Homo sapiens: one gene and its partners. The protein of the gene in region 1 interacts with the protein of each later gene in a pairwise test. Each region holds a gene or a part of one and is shown on either strand. Other genes may lie near its edges.

Region 1 (7,356 bases):
ACACTCCATCCTAGTATTGTTGCTGTAGTGCAACTTGGGCTGTGAGAGGTGGTGTCTGCAGAGGGGCGTTGTGGGCCCCATGCCCCTTTGGCTAAAGTCCAGCATTTGGGTAGATTGATCACAAGCAACAGGTCTAACCCAAAGTTGACTTGGCAGGTCCAGGGCCAGCCCACATTTCTCAACAAGGCTCACAGGGGCTTTCCATATTGCGGTGTGAGGAACAGAGCGCCCACCTCGCCTTCCCCTCCACCTGCTCCCTGATCGCCATCCTGTCCTTCTGAGCCTCCTAGTTTTGACCTTGCTGATTTCTTTTCTGATTTTGGTCTCTCCTCGCCCTTTGTTCTATGGACTTGGTGTTTGGTACATTTTCTTACCATTTCTGTGTTTCTTGTTTTATCAACATATTGCTTTATGCCATCTCAGGGAAGTCCCAGGGACTCTCCCACCCAGTAGGTCTTTGGGGCCGTGGCTCTACCCTGCTTACCTTACTCACTCTCTCGCCAGTGTCTCCCGCATCCCGTTCCCCAGAGTTCAAATCCAGGCCTCGCTGCATAACAGGTAGGCTGTTTGAGGTTACCTTTCCTATTGGAGTCTGTTTCTTTTATAAATGGGGTGGGTAATCCCTTTCTCACAGGGCAGTTGTGAGATGTACTGAGTGTGTGTGTGTGTGTGTGTGTGTAACCATCACAACCTAGTACCAAATGGAAACTAGGTAATCCTAGAAATAGAGCCACCCTCCCCATGACCCTTCTCCCCGACCTTGGTCTCTGCTGTCAGGCAGTGATGTCCTGTCTCTTTCTCCCCCTGTTCCAGCTCCACCCTCCTTCACAGTCAGTGAGGGGGACTCAGACCGAACTTGCTCCTCCCCTAGCAGCAGAGGATCTCTGATTGGCTGCCATCACCATGGCAACCTACTGCCTTCTCTCCCCATCCCTCACTTTCCAGAGCCAGCAGATTTGTGGAGTTCCAGACTTCTCAGGGCTGGGAGGGAAGATACTAGGGGAGGACAGAGAGGCCCCCTTCACAGCTAGGATAGCCATGCATTTGGGGTTTGCTTGGACTCCAAATTCCAGCCTGGTATGCAGTGTGGCCTCTCCTGTCTCCACATGTTGAGGGAATGACTTTCTGATATCCTTAGTTGTCCTGATTCCCACTGAAAAGGCTCAGCTTGATGGCTGAGGGTCCTGGGTTGGTGGCATGTGGCATGAATGATAAGTGTGTTGTTCAGTGATACTCACTGAATGTCAAACAGCACAGTGTTCGTCCTGCCGTCCTTGCAGCCCTGCTGAAAGGATTACACCATAGATTCAGCTCTGGTGTGCTTTGAAAACCCCAAAGGCTGTCAGGGCTCATTCCTCATCCTGGCCACCGCTTGGCCAGGGGCTGGCAGCCTAACTGGAGCCCTCCCCTCTGGATGTGAAGTGGGGGCTTGGAGATGTGTGTCTACATGGGGCCTCCTGGAGAACCACACGGGGTGCTGTGGTGAGATGCCAGCTTGCAGGTCCTGGCAGTGGGGTGCAGGTCAGGGGTTCATGCCAGGGCTTGAGAATCTACTTAATCCCCAGCACAGTCTGCAGGGTGAACATGTGACATCCATGCATTAACTATGATTTTCAAATGCTCATTGATGCTACTGTAGTTTAAAAATAATAACTTCAAAGCATGGGCTGAATTCAAGGCAACTTTTGTCATTATTCGTGTTCTCAGTCAATAGGGGTTTGGTGGTAGAGGGTGAACAAACCCTCCTAAAATAGGGTGAGGTGCCAGGCGTGGTGGTTCATGCCTATAATCCCAGCACTTTGGGAGGCCAAGGCAGGTGGGAGCCCAGGAGTTTGAGACCAGCCTGGGCAACATGGTGAAAACCTGATTCTATAAAAAATTAGCTGGGTGTGGTGGCACATGCCTGTAGTCCCAGCTACTGGGGAGGCTGAGGTGGGAGTATCACTTGAGTCTGGGAGGCAGAGGTTGCAGTAAGCCATGATCACATCACTGCACTCCAGCCTCAATGACAAAGCAAGACTTTGTAAAAAAAAAAAAAAAAAAAAAAGGAGGGAGGAGCAAGGTGATGGAATTATCACACATGCTACAACATGGATGCTCCTTGAAGACATGCCAAGAGAATGAAGCCAGATACAAAAGGACAATACTATTTGATTTCACTGATACGAGGTGCCTAGAATAGGCAAATTCATAGAGACAGAAAGTAGTTTGGGGTTAGCTGGAAAGGAGTGTTATTGCTTACTGGTTACATATGAATATTGGGGAACATGCCAAAGTTCTGGAGATGGAAAGCTGTGATGGCTACACAGCAATGCGTGTGCACTTGAGGCCAGTGAGCTATACACTTCAAAATAGTGAAAATGGTGAGCGTTATGTTGGACATGTTCAGCCTCAATAAAATTACCCCTCCCCGGCTGGGCGTGGTGGCTCATGCCTATAATCCCAGCACTTTGGGAGGCTGAGGCAGGCAGATCACGAGGTCAGGAGTTCAAGTCCAGACTGACCAATATGGTGAAACCCCATCTCTACTAAAAATACAAAAATTAGCCAGGTGTGGTGGTGCGTGCCTGTAGTTCCAGTGACTCAGGAGGCTGAGGCGGGAGAATCTCTTGAATTCGGGAGGTGGAGGTTGCAGTGAGCCGAGATCACGCCATTGCACTCCACCCTGGGTGACAGAGCGAGACTCTGTCTCAAAAAAAAAAGAAAAAAAATTACCCCTCCCCACCAAGAAGAACACATGAGGCAAGGCTGGACGGTGGAATGTGGGGATGATGGACACATCTTGGGGGGATTTAATCTGGAGAGGTGTTCTGGAGGAGGGGGTCTCGCTCCACAGCTGCCTGGCTCCTCTCCTGCCTCACCCTGCCCTCTCCAGCTCACTGGCTGAGGGCAGCAGCCTGTGAAGGTTATGTTAGTGGCTCCCTCATTCCCTGAGGGAACTACAGAAGCCACCATCGCTGACCCGTCACCCCCCCTCAAGATTCCACCATATGGAAATGTAAACTAGTACAGTCACTATGGAAAACAGTGTGAAAAATTTTTAAAGAACTAAAAGTAAATCTACCATTTGATCCACCAATCCTACTCCTGGGTATCTACCCAGAGAAAAAGAAGTTATTGTACAAAAAAGATACTTGCACATGCATGCTTATAGCAGCATGATTCGCAATTGCAAAAATATAGAACCAGCCCAAATGCCCACCAATTAACAAGTGGATAAAGAAAATGTAATACACACACACACACACACACACACACACACACACACACACACCGTGGAATACTACTCAGCCATAAAAAGCAATGAAATAATGGCATTTGCAGCAACCTGGGTGGAATTGGAGACCATTATTCTAAGTGAAGTAACTCAGGAATGGAAAACCAAACATCATATGTTCTCACTCATAAGTGGGAGCTAAGCTAGGAGGGCGCGAAGGCATAAGAATGATACAAGGGACTTAGGAGACTTGGGGGAAAGAGTGGGAGGAGAGTGAGGGATAAAAGACTACTCACTGGGGACAGCGTACACTGCTCGGGTGATGGTGCACCAAAATCTCAGAAATCACCACTAAAGAACTTATTCATGTAACCAAACACCACCTGTTTCCCAAAAACTTACTGAAAATTTTAAAAAATCCACCATATTTGGGAATCACCAGTGTAATGACCAGTCCATCTTCCTACCTGTGGCTCCCTCTGGAAGGCCCAGGAGGGCTGGATGGGAGGGGCAGTGAGGACCCACTAGTGTCAGCAGAGATGTGGCTGATACCTTTGCAAAGGTGGCCAGAGGGAAGCCTTATTCTCCAGAGACTCCAGTGCAGGGCCCTCATCAGCTCCCAATCCTGGGGTTTTTGCAGTCCCCGCAACCCCCCGCCTTCTGAGTCATCGTTCAAACCCACCAGCCCTTCTGACAGAGCTGGAAACAGGCACCAAGCCCTCCAGGAAGCTATTTTTAGGGTTCATCTGTTCTTTTTTATTTCTTCTCTGGATTCCATATTCTCTCACCCCCAAATTTAAAGGACCTAAAGATCCTGGAAATCATTCATTATACCCCCAGCTCGCAAGCTGTGGCTTCTCCCCAACCTTCTCTGTACCACTCCCTCTTTCTTTCTTCCTCTCCGCCCTCACCCCTCTGGTTCTCCAGCTCCACAGGCAGCAGAGAAAGCAGGCTCTTTGTCTGACATCATCTTTCACTCCCTGGCCTGCTAAGAGTTACTCACTCAGGCAATCCCTGCTCCACCAGAGGAGACTGTCCAATTGCCAAGCAACCCACTGCTGGCCAATCACAGAGCTTGGAGGTGATGTCATGGCAAGAGCGAGCAGTGGTGCTGATGTTGAGAGAAGCCCAGGGTACCACTAATTGAGGGAGTGAGGAAGAGAGCAGCTCGCTTCTAACTGGACTGCACGTAAGTAGAAATAAAATGCAACTAATTTGAGGCTTTTCAGGCAAAAGAAAAAACAAGACAGCAGCTACAGTGGGGAGAAGCGAGGGGCCTAGCACCTATTGTGTCACCTTTGGTTCTACTCAATCATTTAAACTTTGTCAGATCTTGGGGGAAAGGGGGTGAGGCAGAAAGAATGGCGCTCGGCCAAGGGGTGAGGGTGGGCTCCGGGTGCCACTTTTATTCCAGAGCTCAGGAGAGGCAGGATGGGTGGGAATTGTCAGATGCTATGGTGAGCTATTTCTGCATAAAAATGTTTTGTTGCTTAAGGAGAAAGGTTTTGTGCTGAGTCTGGCTGCCCCTGCAGCTGGCTGTGACCTGAAGATCCCTTTCAAGTGGGAAGCTCTCCTGTGTTTTTACCTTTTCTTCCTCAGACACAGCTTTTCTTGTCTCCCATTCCCATTTTGATCACACATCTTTTCCTTCGGCTCTATGCACGGGTTACTTTTTTCTCTTGGTTCTAAGGATGCAATGAGATCATCACCTCCTCTTGGCCCCGCCCCACCCTGAGGTCAGCCTAATCCTACCTGGCCAGAGGTGGCTGGCTCCAAAGCTGAAAACTGCAGACACCCAGAACTGCCACGCCCTGGTCCTTGACTGGGGCCCTGGCCAGTCCCCCTCCTTATTCAGCCCACCACACTTGCCAGGAGTTTAGGCATCATTCATTTCTCATCCTGGGACCCAGGGTTTTGATGTCCAGCAGTCAGCTGTCCCCACGTGGCGGTGCTGTCTTTGTTTTATTTCTCCCAGGAAGACACAATCAGGTGTGGTGGAGTCTTGTTGTCCTGAACATGAGCAGGTCTCCAGAATGCTGTGTGTGTGTGTGTGTGTGTGTGTGTGTGTGTGTGTGTGTGTTTGTATGGGGGTCGGAGGGAGAGGTCAGGAATGTTCAGGCACCCTTATCTGAATGCCCTGGGAAGGGATACCCCCTGTCTTAAGACCAAGAGAATACAAGGTGGGATGGCCAGAGGTGGCCTGCTGAGGCTCGAGGGATGGGTGGGAGGTTGAGAGGGAATATGAGGGAATCTGTCTCCACCTGAGGCTGAGCCCCCGCCTCCCAGGGGGAGGAAACCTCTCCCACAGGCGGGTGCTAGGGGAATGAGATCATCCTTCAGATGAGGAAATAATCATAGTGCTGGAGCAGTGAGAAGGCAGAGGGGAAAAGGTCTGATCTGCAGCTCCACAGAAGGAAGCCAGAGTCTCCCAGCAATGCTGCCCTAGTCTCTGGCTCACCCCAACCCTCCGCTTTGCTGCTAGGAGCTGTACTTTCACCCCTCTTGGAAACCACTGAGCACCTGTCAGCTGGTCCCAGCCCTCCTGGCATTCTCAGCTCCACCCAGGCCACTCCTGGAACAGCTCTGGAGTGAGCAGGATCTGCAAGTGCTAGATGGGACTACCATAGAGCATGCTGCCCTGTAGGGAGTGAGTTCCCTGTCACTGAAGGCATTCAAGCAGAAGTTGGATGGCCACCCAGCAGGGAGGCTTTAGAGGAGATTTTTGCATTATGTTAGGGATTGGTCTAGGTTAGTGTTTTAACTGAAGGCTGAGACCCATTAGTACATTGTGAAATCAACTTATGGATTGTAAATGGTATTTTGTTTTAATAAAATGGAATAAGAGTAGAAAATAATTAGAGCACATCTCATGTAATGGGATAATTAATGCTTCCTATGCTGTCTTTAGTTACATATCAGTTATGTGTATATTTGTGTGTACAAATGTACATATATGTCTGTATCTGTAATCATATATGTGTGTATATGTCCATATCATGACAAATACATACTGGATCATAATATAAAATGTAGCACCTTTTGTGAGCTTCAGTCAAAAAAGTTTGAGAAACATTAGGCTAAGTGACTTCTAATTACCTCTCCTAACCCTAAGACTACAAGCCTATGAAAAACTCCCAATAGATAGTCAACCTTTTTTTTTTAATTTTTAACTGCGGTAAATACACATAACATAAAATTTGCCATTCTATTTTTAAGTGTACAAATCAGTAGTATTAAGATTTACATTGCTGTGCATGCAATCTTCAGAACTCTTTTCATTTGGCAAAACTGAAACTCCATACCCATTAGACACTAACTTCCCATTCTCCTGTGCCCCAGCCCCTGGAAAATCCCATCCTACATTCTTTCTCTATAAATTTAACTCCTCTAGGTACCTCAGATAAGTGGAATCATACAGTACTTGTCTTTTTATGATTGGCTTATTTCGCTGAGTGTAATGTCCTCAAGGCTCATCCATGTTGTACACTGTGTGTCCCTATTCCCAAGTAAAAAATAAGTGCCTTTAAGTTGTAATTAAATCTAAATATTTTTTTTTATGGGAAGCTGTCCTTCTTTAGTGAGTTACTTCATTCTAAAGGACCTATCAAAGACGGAGAAGTTTGGTCTCATATTGTCCATAGTGGCCAGGTTGTCGACTAGAGGTGGAGGGACGGTGAAAGTGTCCTGCATTTTTGCTTGGATGGCTGCTTAATAGCTAGATTTCACTTTGGTTCAATAAAAGAAACCCAAATTCCAAGTGGCTATCTTCTTTTACTGGACTAGGCCATTTTTAACCACATTTTTCCTGTAGGGGGATGTGGGCTGATTGATAACTTTTAAAATAGAGCAACAAAGATTGACAAACTGAGGTTCAGAGAATAGGGTATTTGAGCAGGAAAAAGGAACATGGGGCAAATAAATTAGGAAGGTAAGAGAGAGATAAAGAAAGGAGGAGAATTGTGTCTATATTAAACCAACTGTATAGACGGATTGGAAAAATTCAGATATTTTGTGTTCTTGCTTTTAAATAATAGGATATTTAAGTATCAAGATCATAATCAAAGAAAGGCTTAATTTTTCAAGAATGCTTCAGACTGTCTCCCCTGCCCCCTCTGATATCTTTATATTATTTCATACTT
Region 2 (7,026 bases), on another chromosome or scaffold:
AGAGACACCCTGCAAAGGGAAACATACTCCACACTAGCTAATGAAGCCCCTTCTTTTATGCTTTTATCTTCCAGATATTTGGGTTCTTGGTCTGGACCATGGTAGCCGCCACCCACATAGTATACCCCTTGCTGCAAGGATGGGTGATGTATGTCTCGCTCACCTCGTTTCTCATCTCCTTGATGTTCCTGTTGTCTTACTTGTTTGGATTTTACAAAAGATTTGAATCCTGGAGAGTTCTGGTAAGAACCAGCAGCATGGCTCTTCCTGGGTGGACGTTCTGGGTTGGGTGAGGACAATTGGCCTTTCTGGGCAGGGAGGGATCCTGGGCTAGGCTCCTATGGAACCAAGACTTTTTATCTTACCATTTTTACTACCACGCTAAAATGAAGACATTTATCTGCAAGCGTAAATAATTCCTGGTATTCCCCTTCACTGGCTTCCCTGTTAGGAGAATACACAATGACCTGTGATCAAGCATATTCTGATGTGTTTCCCCTAAATTTTCTTCCTGGTAAAATCCTTGGAGCAACACTGAAGAAAAAGCTAGTAGGAAAAAAATCACTCCATTCTCAAGGCCCTAACACAATCCCTGCGACAGGGTATTTCTTCCATATCCCACATGAATTATATGCAAAGTATATATACATATATACGTATATACATATGTATATATGTATATATATGTATATATATACTTTAATTGTACTCTACAAATAATTTTGGATGTAGATGCTTTCATTTAATATTACATCACTAATTTTTATTTATCACGTCATCTCAAAAAACCATTTAAAACTGTTCCACACTGAACAATTGAAGACATATTTAAAAGTACAGAATATTGTATTATAGGCCCTCATGTAGCCATAACCCAGATTCCAGCATTATCAAGACCTTACCACATTTGTTTCATCTAGCCTTTGTCCCCACTAAGGAATTTTAAAGCAAACACCAAACATCATGCCATTCTATTCCACACACTTCAGTATGTTTCCAAAAAAACTCCGCAAACTTTCTCACATTATCACATGTATACGAAGTAAACAATTCCTCAGCATACCTAAGACAGTATACAGTGGTCCCCCATCTCCGGAGGATAAGTCCCAAGACCCCTAGGGGATGCCTGAATCCTCAGAGAGTACTGAACTCCGAATTTGCTATGCATGCACTTCTTTTTTCTTCTTCACAATTTCACAGATAGACAATTCATTCTTACTGTAGATCTTAACAACCTCAGCATATTTTTTTTCTTTCCTTATTAAGCTGAAAACTTATACTTTTTAACTTAAAGAAAGCACCCTATGACTTCTCTTTGGCATATCCAAATTGCCAGCATCACTACTCTTGCAATTTGGGGCCATTATGAAGTAAAATAAGGATTCTTTGAATGCAAGCACTGCAGTGCCACAACAGTTGATCTGATAGCCCAGATGAGTACAAAGCGACTAACATGGGTGGCACAGACAGTGTAGACATGCTAGACAAATGTCTGATTCACATCCCAGGTGGAACAGGGCGGGACAGTGCAAGATTTCATCATTGTACTCAGAAAGGCACACATTTAATTGTTAATTTCTGGAATTTTTCATTTAATATTTCAGACCAAGATTGACTTTGCGTAACTGAAATATACTGATCTTTATTAGTCTGCCATTGCTTACGACATAGATATTACATTAAAAACACTGTGTATTAGTCTATTCTCACATTGCTATAAACAACCAGAGACTGGGTAAATTATAAAGAAAAGAGGTTGAATTGACTAGTTCCTCATGGTTAGGGAGGCCTCAGGAAACTTACAATCATGGTGGAAGGTGAAGGCTAAGCAAGGCATGCCTTGCATGGCAGCAGGAGAGATGGGGGAGGGGGAAGTGCCATACTTTTAAACCATCAGATCCCATGAGAACTCATTCACTATCATGAGAACAGCATAGGGGAAACTGCCCCCATGATCCAATCACCTCCCACCAGGTCCCTCCCTTGATACATGTGGATTACAATAGGAGATGAGATTTGGGTGGGGACAAAGAGCCAAACCATATCATTATACCACTGGCCCCTCCCAAATCTCATCCTTCTCACATTTAAAAATACAATCATGCCTTCTCAACAGTCCCCCAAAGTTTCAACTTATTCCAGCATTAACCCAAAAGTTTAAGTCCAAAGTCTCATCTAAGACAAGAGAAGTCTCTTCTGCCTATGAGCCTGTAAAATCAAAAAGCAAGTTAGTTACTTCCAAGACACAATAAGGGTACAGGCATTGGGTAAATGCTCCCATTCCAAATGGGAGAAATTGGTCAAAACAAAGGGGCTACAGGCCCCATGCAAGTCCTAAACCCAGCTGGGCAGCCATTAAATGTCGACATTCCAAAATCTCCTTTGACTTCATGTCTCAGATTCAAGTCACCCTGTTACAAAGGGTGGGCACCCAAGACCTTGGGCAGCTCCACCTCTGTGGCTCTTCACAGTACAGCCCCTGCAGCTGCTTTCACAAACTGGCATTGAGTGTCTGTGCTTTTTCAAGGTGACCAGTGCAAACTGTCAGTGAACCTACCATTCTGGGGTCTACAGGACAGCTCTTCTCACAGCTGTACTAGCCAGTGTCACAGTGGGGACTCTCTGTGGGGGGTCTGACCCCACATGTCCCTTCTGCACTGCCCTAGTAGAGGTTCTTCATAAGGGCTCCACCCCTGCAGCAGACTCTGCCTGTACATCCAGTCATTTCCATACATCCTCTGAAATCATGGCAGAGGTTCCTAAACCTCAATTCTTGCCTTCTGCATGCCTGTAGGTCCAACACCATGTGTAAGCTGCCAAGGCTTGAGGCTTACACACTCTGAAGCAATGGCCCAAGCTGTACCTTGGCCCCCAGCTGCTGGAGCTGGGGCAGCCGGGTTGCAGAGTGCTGTGTTCCAGGACTGTGCAGAGCAACAGGGCCCTGAGCCTGGCCCACAAAACCATTTTTCCCTCCTAGGTCTCTGAGCCTGTGATGGGAGGGGCTACTGTGAAGATCTCTGAAATGCCCTGGAGATATCGTCCCCTTTGTCTTGGGGACCCTCATTACTCATGAAAATTTCTGCAGCTGACAGCTTGAATTTCTCCCCAGAAAATATGTTTTTCTTTTCTAACACATGATCAGGCTGCAAATTTTCCAAACTTTTATGTTCTGCTTCCCTTTTAAACATAAGTTCCAATTTTGGACCATCTCTTTGTGAATGCATATGATTGTACACTTTCAGGAAAAGTCAGGTCACATCTTGAATGCTTCAATGCTTAGAAATTTCTTCTGCCAGATACCCCAAATCATCTCTTTTAAGTTCAGAGTGCCACAGATCTCTAGGACAGGGGTAAAATGCCACCAGTCTCTTTGCTAAAGCATAGCAAGAGTGACCTTTATTCCAGTTCCCAATAAGTTCCTCATCTCCATCTGAGACCACCTCAGCCTGGATTTCATTGTCCATATCACCATCAGCATTTTGGTCAGAATCATTCAACAAGTCTCTAGAAAGTTCCAAACTTTCCTACATCTTCCTGTCTTCTTCTGGGTACCCCAAACTGTTCCAACCTTTGCCCATTATCCAGTTCCAAAGTTGCTTCCACATTTTCAGGTATCTTTATAGCAGTGCCTGACTCCTGGTACCAATTTTCTGTATTAGTCTGTTCTCACACTGCTGTAAAGAACTACCTGAGGCTGGGTAATTTATAAGGAAAAGAGGTTTAATTGGCTCACAGTTCTGCATGGCTAGGGAGGTCTCAGGAATCTTACAATCATGGTGGAAGGCGAAGGGGAAGCAAGGCACACCTTACATGGCAGCAGGAGTGAGAGAGGGAAGTGTCACACTTTTAAACCATCAGATCTTATGAGAACTCCCTCACTATCACGAGAACAGCATGGGGAAACTGCCCCCATAATCCAGTCATCTCCCACCAGGTCCCTCCCCCAACATGTGGGGATTACAATTCGAGATGAGATTTGGGCAGGGACACAGAGCCAAACCAAATCACACTGCAAAAAAAAAAAAAAAAGGCAGGACTCTAGGGGGCTGGCCTGCCTCATTTGCTCATTCTTTACTGCTATGTAGCCAGAGAGGAAAATGTTCACCTGATTGATGTGGCCATGCGTGGCTCTGCTCTGCATTTCCAGGACAGCCTGTACCACGGGACCACTGGCATCCTGTACATGAGCGCTGCCGTCCTACAAGTACATGCCACGATTGTTTCTGAGAAACTGCTGGACCCAAGAATTTACTACATTAATTCGGCAGCCTCGGTGAGTGGGCTGGCCAAGGACAGCAGTCTTGCCTGGAGGATGTTTCGTGCAGGAGGCCTAACTTTGCTTGTGCTGTATAGACCCTGAGCCCTCAAGTGGAAGGAGCCATGGGGGCAGGGGATAGGGATGTGTGTCCCTGTAAACATGTGCACCCACGTTCAGGGGTCCTCTTTTACCTTCTATTGTTCCCACTCCAGCTTTCCTCTCTCTTAGACACCCCCCACGCTGTCTGCAGAATTTTCTTTTTCCAAAACACAAATTGGAACAGATGTCTCTCTCCTACTGAAAATCCTTCAATGGCACCCACTGCCTTTGGAATGGGGCCCGCATCCCTCGGCATGGCTGAACTATTGAGAGATGAAGCAGGGAAGGGGAAAGTGGAATGTCGAGGTCTCAGGGGAGGAGGCATCAGGGAAGGCCCTGTCAAGAGGACAGAAGGAGGCAGGGGCCACCAGGCAGTTACCCCTGCTAAGGTCCCACCAGGCAGTTACCCCTGCCAAGGACCCTCTGTGTGCTCAAGGGCAGCCAGGAGGGTGGTGTAGCTGGGACAGCTGGCCATGGAGGATTGCAGGGGCCGTTGCTGGTCTTGCAAGTTTAGGAAGTTAAACTCACCTGATGAGGAGGGAAGGGAGGCAGACAGGCCAGAAGGCAGCTGAAATATCTTGTGGCCACCCCAGAGGGTCACAGTGCACTCCACAGTGGGTGGCATTTACCTCCATCTAACCCATGTATGTGCTACTCATCTATCTTGCTGCTATCTGCTTCTTATCTCTCAAATGTAAGCTCCATGAGGGCAGGAATTTTTGAATATTTTCTTCACTGTTATACCCACAGTTGCTCTTGAAGGAAAGCAGGTCCTTAAAAGATATTTGTTGACTGACTGACTGAATGAGGAGCGTGTGAGTGGACAGTGGGGCAGAGTGGGGCTGGGATGTTTGGCAGGGCCTGAAAGGTATTGAAGGTGACGGCCCTACCCTGAGAAAAGAGCAGAGCCATCATACAGCTTCAACGTGGGGCAACGGGATTGTGTTCTCCCCATGAGTGAGAAGTGTCCTCACTTGTCCACTTCTGCCTGCCCTGCCCAAATGGTGGAGCAGATTCGAGGGGCAGGGCAGGAAGAAGTGGACAAGTGAGGCCATGAGGAGTCCTGCCGAGGGATGCCGGTGGCTGAGACAAGGGAAAAATGAATGTCCCAAGAGCTAGGCAGGGAAATCAGTAGCCTTTGGGGTGGCTTTGCATATGGCTGGCAAGGGAGGCAGGAGGAGCCAGGGGCCACAGGGGTCAGGCTCAGGGAGTGGGGCGAGAGGAGGACCCTGGGGCCCACTGGGCTTGTCAGGCTTGTGAGGAAACGTCAGGGGCTCAGTGTGAGCCAGGAAGAGCTGGAGGATGTCTGAACATTCACGAGGAGCTGATAAGCAGCCGCTCAGGGCAGAGTTCTGGGCCAGCGAGGGGAGCTGTAGGAGTGTTCAGAACACAGATTTGCTGGAGGTGGGCAGAGGAGAGCGGGCCTCGGGCAGGAGGTCAGCGTGGGATATGGGCCCAGAGCTGTGGTGGAGGTGAGCCTGCTTCACAGCCAGGTGCAGATGAGGTGGAGACTGCAGTCGGGGCAGGACACCAGGACGGCCCCAGGGAGGCCCTGATGGAGAGTTTCCAGAAGAGGGAGTTGTTGGCCAGGGGTTGCTGCCCTCAGGCCACGCAGGAGGCGAGGAGGCAGGGTCATGCGTGGCCTCCTGGGCAGTGGGGCTGAGGGTACCTGAGGGGTGGGCAGGAGCTGGCGCTGCTGTCTCTAACAGTCACTCTCCACCTCCTTCCAGTTCTTCGCCTTCATCGCCACGCTGCTCTACATTCTCCATGCCTTCAGCATCTATTACCACTGATGCACAGGCGCCAGGCCAAGGGGGAAATGCTCTTTGAAAGCTCCAATTATTGGTCCCCAAAAGCAGCTTCCAACGTTTGCCATCTGGATGACAAACGGAAGATCCACTAAAACGTCCACGGGATTAACAGAACGTCCTTGCAGACTGAGCGATGACACCACACTTTGTTTGGACATTTAAATTCACTCTGCTGAATAGGAGGAAGCTTTTCTTTTTCCTGGGAAAACAACTGTCTCTTGGAATTATCTGACCATGAACTTGCTCTTCTAGACAACTCACATCAAAGCCCTCACTCCACTAATGGAGAATCCTAGCCCCACTAATGCCAAGTCTGTTTGGGGATTTTGCCTCAGCTATGGGCTTCCCTAGAGTAGGTCTAGGGGAATACTCAGTCTGATCTTTTTTTTGTTTGTTTTATTTTGTTTTTTTTGAGACGGAGTCTCGCTCTTCCTCCAAGGCTGGAGTGCAGTGACGCGATCTCCACTCACTGCAGGCTCCGCCTCCCGGGTTCCCGCCATTCTCCTGCCTCAGCCTCCCGAGTAGCCGGGACTACAGGCGCCCACCACCGTGCCCGGCTAATTTAGTTGTATTTTTAGTAGAGATGGGGTTTCACCGTATTAGCCAGGATGGTCTCGATCTCCTGACCTCGTGATCCGCCCGCCTCGGCCTCCCAAAGTGCTGGGATTACAGGCGTGAGCCACCGCGCCCGGCCTGATTCTCTTAAAATTGAAGAGGTGCTGCCAAGGCCTTCAGATCTAACGCAGATGCATAGACCTTGTTCCTGGTACTTGTTCAGCCTGTGCTGGGGAGCCGTGGTCCCGAGTTCCCTGGGAGGCTGACAGGGTCAAGCCACCCTGCCCACCACCCTCCCACTTC
Region 3 (7,028 bases), on another chromosome or scaffold:
ATATTGAAAGTCTCTTACAGCATAAATTTGAGGTTTCATTACACGAAAAGGCTCTCTACCAACAATGATGATACAAAGCAAGCAAAGACAAGAGGAGGACTTAGAACTCTGTCCTGCCACAAATGTACAGTCATAACTCGACAGAGCAGCAACCTTGCAAACGTAGGAGTCAAGGAAATACTTGTCTTCCTCCTGGTGAGTTTAGACTGTATCATCTCTGAGAATGAATATTTGTCTTTGGGATGTTTGTGTGGACATCTGAGTAAACAGTTACCAGCTAGACACTTGGAAAACTAAGGAGGAGAGTCTGCAAGTCACCTGATAAGGAGAACTTGAACTTGAATGCGAACAGACTTAAGTATGCCTGCCCTGAGCTGTTCTGCAAAATTTGGAGTGCCAAGGCCGCTGTGGACTATCCTATTAAGAGTGTCTGCAGCACTATTCTAGAATGAATAACTTAGACTTGAGGAATGCGGTGCTGAAGAAACCTTGTCAGGAGTGTAGGGAAGGATTCTAAGGCAAGAACAACTCTTATGAATGAGGTTGCCATTTCCCAGAAGATAGGTAGGAGTCACCCTGTAGAGTGGAAAGAGGAGTGGGATTAGAACTGGTAACACCCATGAGGGGACCCCCATAAAGTGTTTAACTTCATGGTGGCTCATGCCTGTAATCCTAGTACTTTGGGAGGCTAAGGCAGGTGGATCACTTAAGGTCAGGAGTTCGAGACCAGCCGGGCCAACATTGCAAAACCCCGTCTCTACTAAAAATACAAAAAATTAGCCAGACGTGGTGGTGCATGCCTATAATCCCAGCTACTCCAGAGGCTGAGGCACCCGGGAGGCAGAGGTTGCAGTGAGCTGAGATCATGCCACTGCACTCCAGCTTGGGCAACAGAGCGAAACTCCATCTCAAGAAAAAAAAAATTTTTTTAACTCCTTAGTGCTGTCTCTTGGAGTATGGGAGAAGTCATATTAGCATATAGTTTAGTTACCCCAACTGTACAATAAAATCTGATAATCTTACACATGCTTGTGTGGTATTGTGAAGCAACCAGGCTATAAAGGAAAGGGTAGCTTACCCCATACTCATCGCCTCATGGGGGACTACACAGGGCCCAGCATCTATCAAGGAAACTGTTTCAGAATATGACCATCAAAAAAGGGAGCCGTTGTTCCCATTGAACCTGGAAATGATGAGGAGAAGCAAAGGATACTGGCCACTAAAAGCCTGGTGCCCAGCTCAAGAGCAGCCTGAATTAAACCCTCTATTGGAGGCCAGCTGATGATTACACTACAAATCTCTACTTGAGCTTAATTTGGTAAATTCATTTTCTTAAATCCATTTTATCTAGATTTTAAAAATCATTAGCATAGTTACACAAATGACTCTCTATAATTAATTTCCACCGTATCGTGGCTACTTTCCATGTATCATTCCTAAACTTTTATAATGTCTTTTCTCTTTTTTAAATTGATTTGGCTCGCTGATATTTTATTTTATTGATTTTGTTTTCTATTTGTATGTCTACCATTCCTCCCCCTGCCAGATGCACACACAAAACTGAATTTTTTTTATCAATTTTAAACAGGATTCTAACTTATTATATATTCTCCTTTTATCATTTCAAAATTCTCACCTCCTTTTTTTCTGATCATTTTTTAGCAATTCATTTGAAAATAAATGAATAGGAAATTTATTTTTAATCTTCTTGATTTAGGTAATGAAAATGTTTAAAGCTAGGAATTTTCCTTGCATTCTGCTTGGCCATACCTCACAGATTTTCCTCATAATGTTGCCACTATCACCGTTTTCAATGCATTCTTAATTGCAGATTTGAAATTCCCTCTATCTTTTCAGAGTAAATGGGAAGAATTTTTTTCCAAGAAGTTAAAGTGTTTCTTTCTTCCATCTTTTGTTATTTATTTCAATTGTATTGTACTGTGGTCAGAAAATCCTGCCATAATAGATCAACTTTTCAAAACATATACTGAGGTTTACTTTTTGATCCATATGGTCAATTTTTTTAATGTCTCGTGGGCATTTGAAAATAAGGTATATTTTCTATTCTCAAAGTTCTGTGTGTGTGTGTGTGTCTTTTTCAATATAGATAGATAGGTATGACAACCTTATTAATTGTTTTGTTCTCAGAACACAATGTTAAGGGCTCAAACCTACTGTCAAGCAAACCTGGGTCCAACACTTTCTGTGTGATCTTGAGCATATCATTGACCACTCTAAATCCCAGTTATCATGGGATTAGTATCCCAATGACTGCGGACTTTGTAGACATTTCTTTCTGATGTTTAATGGAGTCCAAATAGTAGGTCTCTATAGGAACTCCTATTAAAATCTCCTGTCTTTCTTTACGCTCTAATGCCCTGAACTCCCAGAATCTTCTCACTCTTCTATGCCAATAAAAATTCTCTGGCCAGGCGTGGTGGCTCATGCCTGTGATCGCAGCACTTTGGGAGGCCGAGGCAGGTGGATCACCTGAGGTCAGTAGTTTGAGTCCAGCCTGACTAACATGGTTGAAACCCCATTTCTACTAAATACAAAAAATTATCCAGGCATGGTGGCGTATGCCTGTAATCCCAGCTACTCAGGAGGCTGAGGCAGGAGAATTGCTTGAACCTGGGAGGCGGAGGTTGCAGTGAACCGAGATCGCGCAATTGCACTCCAGCTTAGGCAACAAGAGTGAAACTCCGTCTCACTCTGTCGCCCAGGCTAGAGTGCAGTGGCACATTCTTGGCTCACTGCAACCTCTGCCTCCCAGGTTCAAGCGATTCTTGTGCCTCAGCCTCCCAAGTAGCTGGGTTTACAGGCACATGCCATGACATCCGGCTAATTTTTTATATTTTTGGTAGAGATGGGGTTTCACCATGTTGGCCAGGCTAGTCTTGAACTCTTGACCTCAAGTGATCCACCCACCTGGACCTCCCAAAGTGCTGGGATTACAGGTGTGAGCCACTGTGCCCGGCCAAAATTCTCTTTTTCTGACATCTTGGGCTCCCCAAGCCCTCTGTCCTCTACTCATTCCCATCTCTATGTGTCAAGCTCCAGACACAGGGCCTTGAGCTGTTGTCTCTCATCCTGAGTAAATGCCACTTGTCTTCAGTCCTAGTGCTTGAGAATCCATCCTCTGCTTTTCCCTGCCGATTCCTTGTCCTTTTTCTCCTCAAAGAACAGAGAAAGAAGCAGAAGCAGAGAAAATGGTGACAAACTCTCCACATGTTAATAAATGTTATCACAGCTATTTTTAAGTCTCATTACCTGCCTCACATGTGTCAAACCTTAGAATTCCAAAGAGCCACATACATCACCCAACTACCACAGTGAGTAGCATCCAGACAAGGTGAATTTTACAAGGTTACAAAGCTGCTCAGTTAACTTGTCCCAATCCAGTTTCCTCTCCACTATTTTAGCCTGAACTTCTTGGGAATTTCCTGGCTGCATCATTTGTGATGGCTTCATCTTAATGCATGCAAATCAGTTCCCTTTAGTTTTTCCCTAAATTTCCTAGTCCGGTTGACCAGATAAAAAAATGTGTAGAAGACTCTGCCTTCTATTCCTTCCTTCATCCCCCAGCTACCCACCTTTACACTCCCTCCTCATTGCTCCAGAAAGGAGCAAATCCAGAGTTGGTCTCATTCCAGAATCTGAGAAAGACACCACCTACTTCAGAAGAGCAGAAACTCTTTACAACACCAGGATTGGGAAGAGGTGGCTAAAGAAAAAGGAAAATCCTTACACAAAGAACTACCTGATACACATGAAAGCCTACACTGAGAACATCTCATCTAGGTCTTACCACCAAAAAGGCATTTTTTTCCCTCTCATAGAAACCACAAAGGTCTGAATCTGACCCAGAGGACTATCCTTTTCTAATCATGGAAAGGAATCTTGACTTGAAACTGTCCAAGAGCTCCGACCAATCCAGTAGCAAGAGAAAGGGTGGCCGGGGTGCCTACTGATGGGAGGAGCTCCTGAGCCCAGCCCTGGAGGCCTCAGAGTTCAGGGGCCCACTTAGATGATACCAGAGAGCAAGAGAGAGGAACTGGGGTTTGCGAACCTTGTGGCTTTGTCTGTTTCCTGTTTCAGCAAGGCTGCTGTGCAAAAAGAAAGACGGTACCAAGAAGGGACGTGTTAATGGGGCCCAGACCTATGGATTGAAAGCGTGTGCTTTACCCATCTGCTGTCTTGCTCCATCTGAGACCAGAGCCAAGATCTGCCCAGGACTGGAATGCTTTCCCGAGTGGCTTGAGTTGGAGCCTGGGACTAGGAGGTAACTGAGAAGGAGGATGCTTTTGTGTCCAGGTTTGGGAACTCCAACTTCGGGGTAGGGCAGAAGATGCTCTACCATCCCAGCTCCCCTGGGTGGAGAGTGGGTGGCATAGTTTAAGGGTGTCAGGGGTTTGGGTAACCAAGAAAGTATCCTGTATTGGTTTCCTGTGGCGCTAGCCATGGCACAGGGTACAGCTTGCACCACTCCTCTGTTCCAGTAGATTAGATTACATTAGATTAGGAGTGAGTCAAACGACTTAGAGTTCAGGCTACCCAGTGATATGGGCATGAATTAAATGACCTTTTACAGTTTTCTTCAAAGCAGGGATCCCTGAACACAAGACTGCCTTCCCAGCAGCTTAAGCGCAGGCCCCTCTCCCCTCAGTTCACACTGAGAGCTCTGGGCCAGGAAGGCCAACCCATGCAGGAAGCCATTCATTGTCTCCATTACAAACATGGCCAGGAAGTAAAAGCGAGACTCAGAAAGGCATGTCAAGCCACAGTCAGGTGAGGAGCCATGCCCTGTTCTCTCTCTGCAGCCTGAGAGACCAGGCTGAGCCTTCCCAGCCAGTAAACCTTCTTCCTCCAAGCTCTAAGTGAGCCCAGTCATGCTGCCAGGGGGGAACCTGAGAGATGCCAGAAAGCCTGGGCAGTGGCCAAGTGATCTTTCTTTGAACCCTACAGGGACCAGTTCCCTTTTCTTTAGCAGCCTACCCCTGTCAGCCGTCCCACATACCTTCTTGTTTTCAAGCAAGTCAGTAGGGTCCAGATATCCCAGAAACCTGGGTAGGGTTCTATGCAGCATGCTGCACCAAATCCTAGCAGGTGTGGTAGCCAAGGCATCTGGGAACACTCCCCTCTCTAAGGAGCCATTTCCACTGCAGCTCCTTTCTTGGGTAAGAAGGCTCCATGTCTGCCCCAAGGAAGCAGAGAGCAGAGCAGCTGTGTGTTTCAGTGGACTAAGGTTGGTGGCCTGGGTGGAGAGCCCAGAGAGACCTCATCTCAGGCACTGTCTTCTCCCCCACAGCCCTTTCCTCTTCGCGGCAAGAAGGTAGGAGGATTCTCAATGTTCTGCCTCCACTACAAAACCTGTGGGGAAGCTGAGCCAAACAGGGAGGGGACCTCACACCTTATGTGTGACACAGGCAGACCCCATCTCTTCCTTACCTTTCGGCTTGGTGTAATTGGGATGGCAATTATGTCCAGACCACAGAGAAGCCTTTCTCCTTATAGCCCAAACCCAGAGGTCAGAAGTAAATGTGACTTCAGCCTGGGGCCAGCATCCCCTCAATCTGGTAAACAATATACTCTGTCAAAGAGAGAGAGGGTTGAGAGGATGAGAGAAGGCATTCTTGGTCCTAGAAGTGCTAGTTTAGCTTGGAGCCTTTGTCTTACAGCACCAAGTCTTCAATATCCAACATCGGCATAACAAGGATAATATTCGCAATTACTTTTGCACCAACCTAATAGGAATACTTTATGTCTTTATTATTAAAAGGTAACATTTATTGTGTGCTCCATGCCAGGTGCATGGCCTGCATTTTGTCATTTAATCCTTATAACCTACAAGGCAGGTCCTAGCCCCATTTTATAAATGAGGAGACTGGGGCTTAGAGATGTTTAATAGCTTATCTAAAAACACACACAGGTTGTAGGTGACAGAGCCAGGACATGAGTCCACGCAGTGTGACTCCAAGAGCCAGGGTTCTCCACTGCAATCCATGGCAGAATAGCCAGGGGCTGTGGCTCAGGGATGCTGTGAGTGTAGGTTCTAGACATGGAGTTCACATGCACATAATCCTGCGTCTCCTCCATTCAGTCATTTATAACAATAGACATGGGTCTCTCAGACCCTTTCTTTTAAGTCTTTAAATAAAGAAAGTGGCAGGGAAGAAGTCAAGGGACCACCCCCTATGCCCACTCCCACCCTTATCCGAGAAGAAGAAGTAAGGAAAAACAAAGAAGAGAGCCATTCAGAATGGGTATGTAGAGGACAAACATTAATAACCTCACATTTCTGCTTGGAATCAATGCTGCCTGACACCAGAGTATGCCCCTCCAACCCTCAAGAGTCAGGCATTTGAGTGTCCAGGGCTTGACCACACAAAACTCCTCTCAGGGAAGAAGACTGCCCCACCCATGACCCTGGGGAATGAGTGGTAGGATCAGAGAGAAAACAAGAATCCTGCAGAGAATTCCAGACTGAGCCAGAGTAGCGAAGTCCCAGTAAAGGGGCAGAGAGTCTGCTACCTGTTGAGTCTGTTTGGCCTATAAATAAACCCCAAGGGGTTAGAGCTAGCAAATGCCTGCTAGTTGGTGAAGCTGAGATACCCTCCTCCCAGGGTGGTGGGTAATGAGGTCGTGGGAGGAAGAGAAGCAGCAGCAGCTGTGAGGGGGAGTCCCTCTTCCTTCATCAGTCCCTGGTCTGACTCCAGTGATCAGAGGAGGCAGGACACAGAATTTCCAACGCTCAGGATCCAGCTCATCCAAATCCAGCCCAACTCAGCAAAGTGACCAGAGGGTTCTAGGAGGATAAACTACAGAAGGTAGGTGGGGAAGAGTAGGAAAGAGAAAGGCACAGAGAAGGAAAAGGGGATTCAGGTCTAGGTGCTATGTGAATATCAGGTAAGGCCATGCAGAGGGTCATCCTGTGGCCCCTACACCAAGCCTGGCTCCCTGGAAACTTCTGATTACTGTCTTTGTTTTGTTTCTTTTCTGTTTGCAGCAGCCTTATTGAGGTACAATTC
Region 4 (7,026 bases), on another chromosome or scaffold:
GTCTCCTCCAACCCATCCTTATGTTGTGTAGTTTTTCACCTCTGTCCTTTGGCTTACGTCACCTTCCCAACCTAATACCTGCCCTTCTAGTCTTCTGTGTACTTATCCAAATCTAAACCCTCCTTCCAGGCTTAGCTAGCTTTCCTCCATAGAACTTACAGGCAACTCCTGCCTGCTGTGATTCCTTCTTCCCCCACATTCATGACATTTTTATTCCTCAAATGGCAGCTAGTCCTGCCCTGATGAAGTGACATTTCTTATATAGATTATCTGTTTAACTTTTCTTGTTTTTAGGCCTTATTTTTCCTGTTAGGAGGTAATTTCCTTGAAAGCAGAGTCCATTTTATGCTTCTGTATTCCCTGTTACAGCATCTACATAGAAACTAACACATTAAAGGGTTTCATAAATCTTTGTGGTTTTGTTTTTTGTTTTTTTGTTTGAGACAGAGTTTCGCTCTTGTTGTCCAGGCTGGAGTACGGTGGCGTGATCTCAGCTCACCGCAACCTCCGCTTTCCGGGTTCAAGCGATTCTCCTGCCTCAGCCTCCCGAGTAGCTGGGATTACAGGCATGTGCCACCACGCCCAGCTAATTTTGTCTTTTTAGTAGAGATGGGGTTTCACCATGTTGGTCAGGCTGGTCTGGAACTCCTGACCTTAGATGATCTGCCTGCCTCTGCTTCCCAAAGTGCTGGGATTACAGGTGTGAGCCACTGCACCCGGCAGTCTTTATGTTTTTTATGTGACCACTTCAAATAATGAGTATTAGTACATCACCTGAGGAGGGAGGATCAGGATGATTTACTAAGACTGAGAAAGACATAGAAACTTAGAGCAGATTATACATTATTTAATGTACAAATACATTATATAGATATATATATTTTGCAAATGAGATTGAGTTATTTTCTTAAGACTTTATTGACCATAAGAAGTGAGATGGCTCTTTTTTAAGAAAGATTTTTAGGCTGGCACAATGTTAAAAGAATTTTGATAATTAATGGGGCACTTGTTAAAACACAAATAAATTGAAAACTCTGATCCCCAGCATCAAGGGATATAGTCCAAGACAAGACGTTCATAAATGAAACCACTGGAGAACAGTTACAGGTTAGATAGATAAATGTGATAAGAGGGCAGAAGACTATATAAACAATATTTTAATTCAGTAAAAGTGAAAGATAATTTGATTTGAAATTATGAGAAAAGTCTTGAGCTAACCCTTAAAGGAAATAATTTGAATTGGTAGAATGAAATAAGCAAGGAAGCAAAAACTATAGTACACATATGTGTTACCATTTAGAAATAACCTTCACATGTAATGTCTCACTTGAAAAGATTTTTTTTTTTTAGCCCAGAAATGAGACTAGCTATGACAGTAGGTGGATAGTGTTGTGTGATTTAAGAGTATTGGGAAGATGACTTTTACCTTCCTGAGCACATATGATAGAGAATGTGCCCCTCTACACCATCAGTAGTATTTAGGGTTTGCCTTCTAACACTTGATTGTTTTTCTCTGATTCCTTAACAACCCTGCAGTACAAGTAAACCAAATCAAGGAATCAGATCACTGTTATTTTCCCATTTATTTTCTTTCCTTCTCCATGGACCTGTCATAGAATCAATACTTTTTAGTTGTGGGGAACTTGAATAGGACCTTCCTCTTGCATTTTTATTGAAAAGACAACACAATAATTTTTTTTTCTCGGCACTGTATTGAACACCTAGCACTGATGCATTTAACCCTTGCAACAATTTTATGACATAGATTATTGTTATAAATTATTCCTAGTTTACTGGTTTAGAGAGTTTACAGGTCCAGTGCCACACAGCAGAGAAGCATTAGGACTCCTGTCCCTTGGCTCCTTAAGTGAAGCCTGGTCCCAGAGGCAGCTGGAACATTTTATCCTGGAACAGTGGAACCTTAATATGTTTAGCCTAGTTCCCATTTTTGCCTCTAGTGCAAAGACAGCCCCCATTAGCATTGCCCATTCTTAATTACAGTACTTACTTATCCTTGATTCTGAGTTAAAAAAAAAAAAACCCTGTTATTTCATCACTGTTTCATCCTCTTGTTAGGATTCTGGCCAGGTGCTGTAGCTCATGCCTGTAATCCCAGCACGTTGGGAAGCTGAGGCAGGCAGAACCCTTGAGGCCAGGAGTTGGAGACCAGCCTGGTCAACATGATGAAACCCCATCTCTACCAAAAATACAAAGAAAAAATTAGGCATAGTGGCTGTATTCCCAGCTACTCCGGATGCTGAGGCGTGAGAATCGCTTGAACCTGGGAGGCAGAGGTTGTAGTGAGCCAAGATTGCACTCCAGCCTGGGCGACAGAGCAAGACTCTGTCTCTAATTAATTAATGTAGAATTCTAATAATAATTTAAAAGCTCAGACCTTAATTAAAACTGTTAGCCTTTCAGCAGCAATGAACTGCAGGCCTACCTAGATATGAAAATCTAGCTTTTAGCCCTTCTGCAGGAAAAACAAAAAATTATTTTTCTCTAAACCTGCAATTCTATAGGTCTTTTGTTTTTCTCTTTTTTTTTTTTCTTTTTTTTTTTTTTGAGACAGAGTCTCATTCTGTTACCCAGGCTGGAATGCAGTGGCGCAGTCACGGCTCACTGCATCCTCGAACTCCCTGGGCTCAGGTGATCCTCCCACCTCAGCCTCCTGCACAGCTGGGACTACATACACATGCCACCACGCCCTGCTAATTTTTGTATTTTTTGTAGAGACAGGGTTTCACCATGTTGCCCAGTCTCAAACTCCTAGACTCAAGTTACCCACCTACCTCAGCCTCCCAAAGTGCTTGGATTACAGGCGTGAGCCACTGTGCCCAGCCAGGCCTTTATTTTATACATAGATAACAAATTCTTAGACATTCTATATAATTCCTGGAGCTTACCCCAAAATCGAAGTCTTAAAAATAATGTTTTTAAATCTTGGGACAAGAAAGCAGAATGTATGTGATTACACACAGGTTCACTGACTTTGTATTGGCCAAAATTAAATCAGGCCTATTGCTTAATCACCTTTCATTTATTGCCCCTGAGTATGACTGTTTTAGCAAGTGGTGTACTGCAGGTGTTATACTACCTTATTTCTTCACAGTGTATATATTTGCACACTTGTTTGGTTTGATTTTCTCTCACTTTCAAAAGACATCTGTTTAACCTGCCATTTTAGCCCCAGCACAAAATCATTATTCAGTGAATGAATGAATGCATGTGTGAATGATGAGCCTCATCCCACTTCTAACTTGCTTGAGCATGGGGCATCTCTCTTCACTTTAGTTGTAACAAGTGAAATACTGGGCCTTTGCTCATTCTTTGCCCTATTTCCTTCTTTTTTTTTTTTTTTTTTTTTTTGAGATGGAGTTTCACTCTTGTTGCTCAGGCTGGTGCAATCTCGGCTCACTGCAACCTCCACCTCTTGGGTTCAAGCGATTCTCCTGCTTCAGCCTCCCGAGTAGTTGGGATTACAGATGACCACCACCACGCCTGGCTTGTATTTTTAATAGAAACGGGGTTCCACCATGTTGGTCAGGCTGGTCTCAAACTCCTGACCTCAGGTGATCCGCCTGCCTCAGCCTCCCAAAGTGCTAGGATTACAATTGTGAGTCACAGTGCCCAACCCCTACTTCCTTTTTGTTTCCTTATTCTTAAACACCTTATAAGGTTTTTACTGCTACCCATGAGAAACAAACTTCCTCTTGTTCGCTCTAGTCTATACCTGAATATTCACTCTTCTTTATATTTCTAAACCCAAAAAAAGGACACATAACCCGACAAAGGATTTTTTCAAATATTCTGAATTTATTTGCTAACACTTTGAGAATATTTAATCATATTTAGTTATAATGTTAGAGTGATCATTATATTGAAATTTTTAATGATATAAAAATAGAATTTCTTAGCCAGACGTGGTGGCACTCATCTGTAGTTCCAGCTACTCAGGAGGGTGAGGTGGGAAGATTGCTTGAGCCCAGGAGTACAAAGCCAACCTGGGAAACGTAGCAAGACCCTGTCTTTTTTTTTCTTTAAAGGAATTTCCTGGCCGGGCGTGGTGGGTCACGCCTATAATCCCAGCACTTTGGGGGGCCAAGGCAGGCGGATCACCTGAGGTCAGGAATTCGAGACCAACCTGGCTAACGTGGTGAAACCCCATTTCTACTAAAAATACAAAAAAGTAGCCAGGTGTTGTGCCATGTGCCTGTAATCCCATCTACTCAGGAGGTTGAGGCAGAAGAATAGCTTGAACTCAGGAGGTGGAGGTTGCAGTGAGCCAAGATCATGCCAAGACTGAAACTCCGTCTCAGATAGATAGATAGATAGATAGATAGATAGATAGATAGATAGATAGATAGATAGATAGATGATAGATATATAGATAGATAGATAGATAGATAGATAAAGAAATTTCCTGGGAAATCATTATAGGTAAAACAGTCATGGCCAGCTAACTTTTGCTACCATTATGGAATTGGGGTTTATGAAATATCATAAACCAGACCATTTCACTTTAGGGCAACTCAAAAGGATCACCTTCCACATGCAAGATAGGAAGTTGTTAAGTTCTACCTGGAGACACAGAAGAATATCAAATTCGATGACATTATTGACCATTAGGAAGAGGCTAGCCTCCTGCCCTTTAATATTACATCTTAATTAGATAAATTAACCAAGTGGAAATCTGGACTATATCCATAGCTCAAATTTGGTCCTCTCCACACACTTTCATAAAACATTTCTGGGGCCGGGCGCAGTGGCTCACGCCTGTAATCCCAGCACTGTCGGAGGCCGAGGCGGGTGGATCACCTGAGGTCAGGAGTTCGAGATCAGCCTGACCAATGTGGAGAAACCCCGTCTCTACTAAAAATACAAAAATTAGCTGGGCGTGGAGGTGCACACCTGTAATCCCAGCTACTCGAAAGGCTGAGGCAGGAGAATTGCTTGAACCTGGGAGGCAGAGGTTGCAGTGAGCCAAGATCGTGCCATTGCACTCCAGCCTGGGCAACAAGAGCAAAAAATTCCGTCTCAAAAAAAAAAAAAAAATTTTTGGCCAGGCACGGTGGCTCGCGCCTGTAATCCCAGCACTTTGAGAGGCCGAGGCAGGCTGATCACCTGAGGTCAGGAGTTCGAGACCAACCTGGCCAACATGATGAAACCTCGTCTCTACTAAAAATACACAAATTAGCTGGGCATGGTGGCATGCCCCTGTAATCCCAGCTACTCGGGAGGCTAAGGCAGAAGAATCGCTTGAATCCAGGAGCCGGAGGTTGCAGTGAGCCAAGATCACACCACTGCACTCCAGCCTGGGCAACACAGCGAGACTCCATCTCAAAAACAACAACAAAAAGAGGTAAATTTAAGGCCAAGATTGATGTGGAAGTGAAAAGGATTTTGGAGAGAGGGAAAAGGTAGAAGTTCACAAATGCCAATTTTGTATTTCTCGCCTTCTGGGATCTACACCAATTTAGAAATAGCCCCAAGACTAGGATAGGGTAAGGAAAAGATTGTATTAGCTTCATTACCCCCATAGATAGGGTACCCTAGAGTTCCTGAATTGGGAAAAATGCCTGGGATCTGTAACCAAAACTGGACCTCCTACTACAGTCCCTCAATTCTAGACCTTGGAAGTGCACTTAAGGAGGGTTAGGTCTGTAGGGTAGACACTTAGCCAGCCAGAGACATCACACCCTATCTTACACACCACTAAGTAAGGAGAAAGAGCCAAAGAGAAATGAGCTTTCAGGCCATCTCTTGAAGGCCGGTCCTACCTCTTGGCTGGCTATGCTTAATCTCCTAGAAGGAAGATCAGGAAAACAGTTGTTTTGCTGGAAGACAAATAGGACTTAGAATTATATCCCAGTTCCGTAGCCCAGTCTAACCAAATCAAATAAAGGAATAGAAGCAACAATCAGAGGTCCCCGCCCCTCTATTGTAATGTAATCAGTCTGGGTCAGCCATTTTAATTTTTATTCCTGTGTGGTATGAAATGGCTTGGGAACTTTGTTTTTCCCTTGAATGAGACATTTCTTATAAATAAATCAGGACTGATAGCTTTCCAGCTTATTTTTTAAACTTTTTATTTCTGTGTATTCTTTTGAAATTAAGCATTTTCTATTAAAAAAATAGAGCTTAACATGCAACACCTCATTTGAAAAAGAAGTAATTCTAATATATGCTATCTGTTTCACAGGTTGTAGGTCATAAAGAAGGTCTGGATGTTATGGAGAGAGCTGATCCTTTATTCCTTTTAATTGGACTTCCTACTATTCCTGTCATGCTGATATTAGGCAAGATGATTCGCTGGGAGGACTATGTGCTTAGACTGTGGCGCAAATACTCGAATAAACTACAAATTTTAAATAGTATATTTCCAGGTAAGGCACTGAACTGTGGTTGTAAAGTGCATACCAAATTGATCTTGAAGAACAATAACATGCTTTTTTAGCCATGTTTGAAGGTAGTCTAACTCTTCTGATTTATTAGCACTAACGCACTGCATTTTTTTCCTCTAGGGATAGGTTGTCCTGTTCCTCGAATTCCAGCTGAGGCCAATCCTTTAGCAGATCATGTCTCTGCTACTCGAATCTTGTGTGGAGCCCTTGTCTTTCCTACTATTGCTACAATAGTTGGTAAATTGATGTTCAGTAGTGTTAACTCTAATTTACAAAGGACAATCTTGGTAAGACGGCTTTAACATTACTTATATTACCTTGCAAAAGAGAATGAAGTGTATTTGTTTTTAAAAGGTGGGGAACTGTATAAATATTCGGTCTGTGGCTCCTATGCATTAAGCCTCTATTTGAGCCTCACTATCATTCAATAGCTTGAGTGGAAATAAAAAGAGGAGAAACCACTGCAGCAGTTCTGGCCTTTTGGAACTATGTTGTAGGTGCTTTCTCTCCTGGCATATGCATGAATCATCACACCTGTCCCTCTTGCCAGTGGGATTACAGTACTTTACGATCAGACCACCTGGTTCAAATCCCATCACAGAAATTGTCTTGCTGTGAAATC

What was found.
Region 2: the proteins of STMN4 (region 1) and MALL interact in binary tests that used the Homo sapiens proteins (3 or more experiments, as listed by UniProt).
Region 3: the proteins of STMN4 (region 1) and TRAF3IP3 interact in binary tests that used the Homo sapiens proteins (3 or more experiments, as listed by UniProt).
Region 4: the proteins of STMN4 (region 1) and MARCHF5 interact in binary tests that used the Homo sapiens proteins (3 or more experiments, as listed by UniProt).

What each region holds. Positions count from the first base shown.
Region 1 is NC_000008.11:27,255,401-27,262,756, reverse strand, and holds the start of STMN4 (stathmin-4), read left to right. Parts: upstream 1-4,352; 5' UTR 4,353-4,406; intron 4,407-7,356. UniProt on the Homo sapiens protein: Exhibits microtubule-destabilizing activity.
Region 2 is NC_000002.12:110,084,819-110,091,844, reverse strand, and holds part of MALL (MAL-like protein), read left to right. Parts: intron 1-74; coding exon 75-242; intron 243-4,147; coding exon 4,148-4,273; intron 4,274-5,321; exon of another isoform or gene 5,322-5,412; intron 5,413-6,087; coding exon 6,088-6,150; 3' UTR 6,151-7,026.
Region 3 is NC_000001.11:209,752,028-209,759,055, forward strand, and holds the start of TRAF3IP3 (TRAF3-interacting JNK-activating modulator), read left to right. Parts: upstream 1-4,025; 5' UTR 4,026-4,282; intron 4,283-6,470; exon of another isoform or gene 6,471-6,827; intron 6,828-7,006; 5' UTR 7,007-7,028. UniProt on the Homo sapiens protein: Adapter protein that plays essential roles in both innate and adaptive immunity. Plays a crucial role in the regulation of thymocyte development.
Region 4 is NC_000010.11:92,343,147-92,350,172, forward strand, and holds part of MARCHF5 (E3 ubiquitin-protein ligase MARCHF5), read left to right. Parts: intron 1-6,202; coding exon 6,203-6,386; intron 6,387-6,524; coding exon 6,525-6,691; intron 6,692-7,026. UniProt on the Homo sapiens protein: Mitochondrial E3 ubiquitin-protein ligase that plays a crucial role in the control of mitochondrial morphology by acting as a positive regulator of mitochondrial fission and as an important regulator of immune response.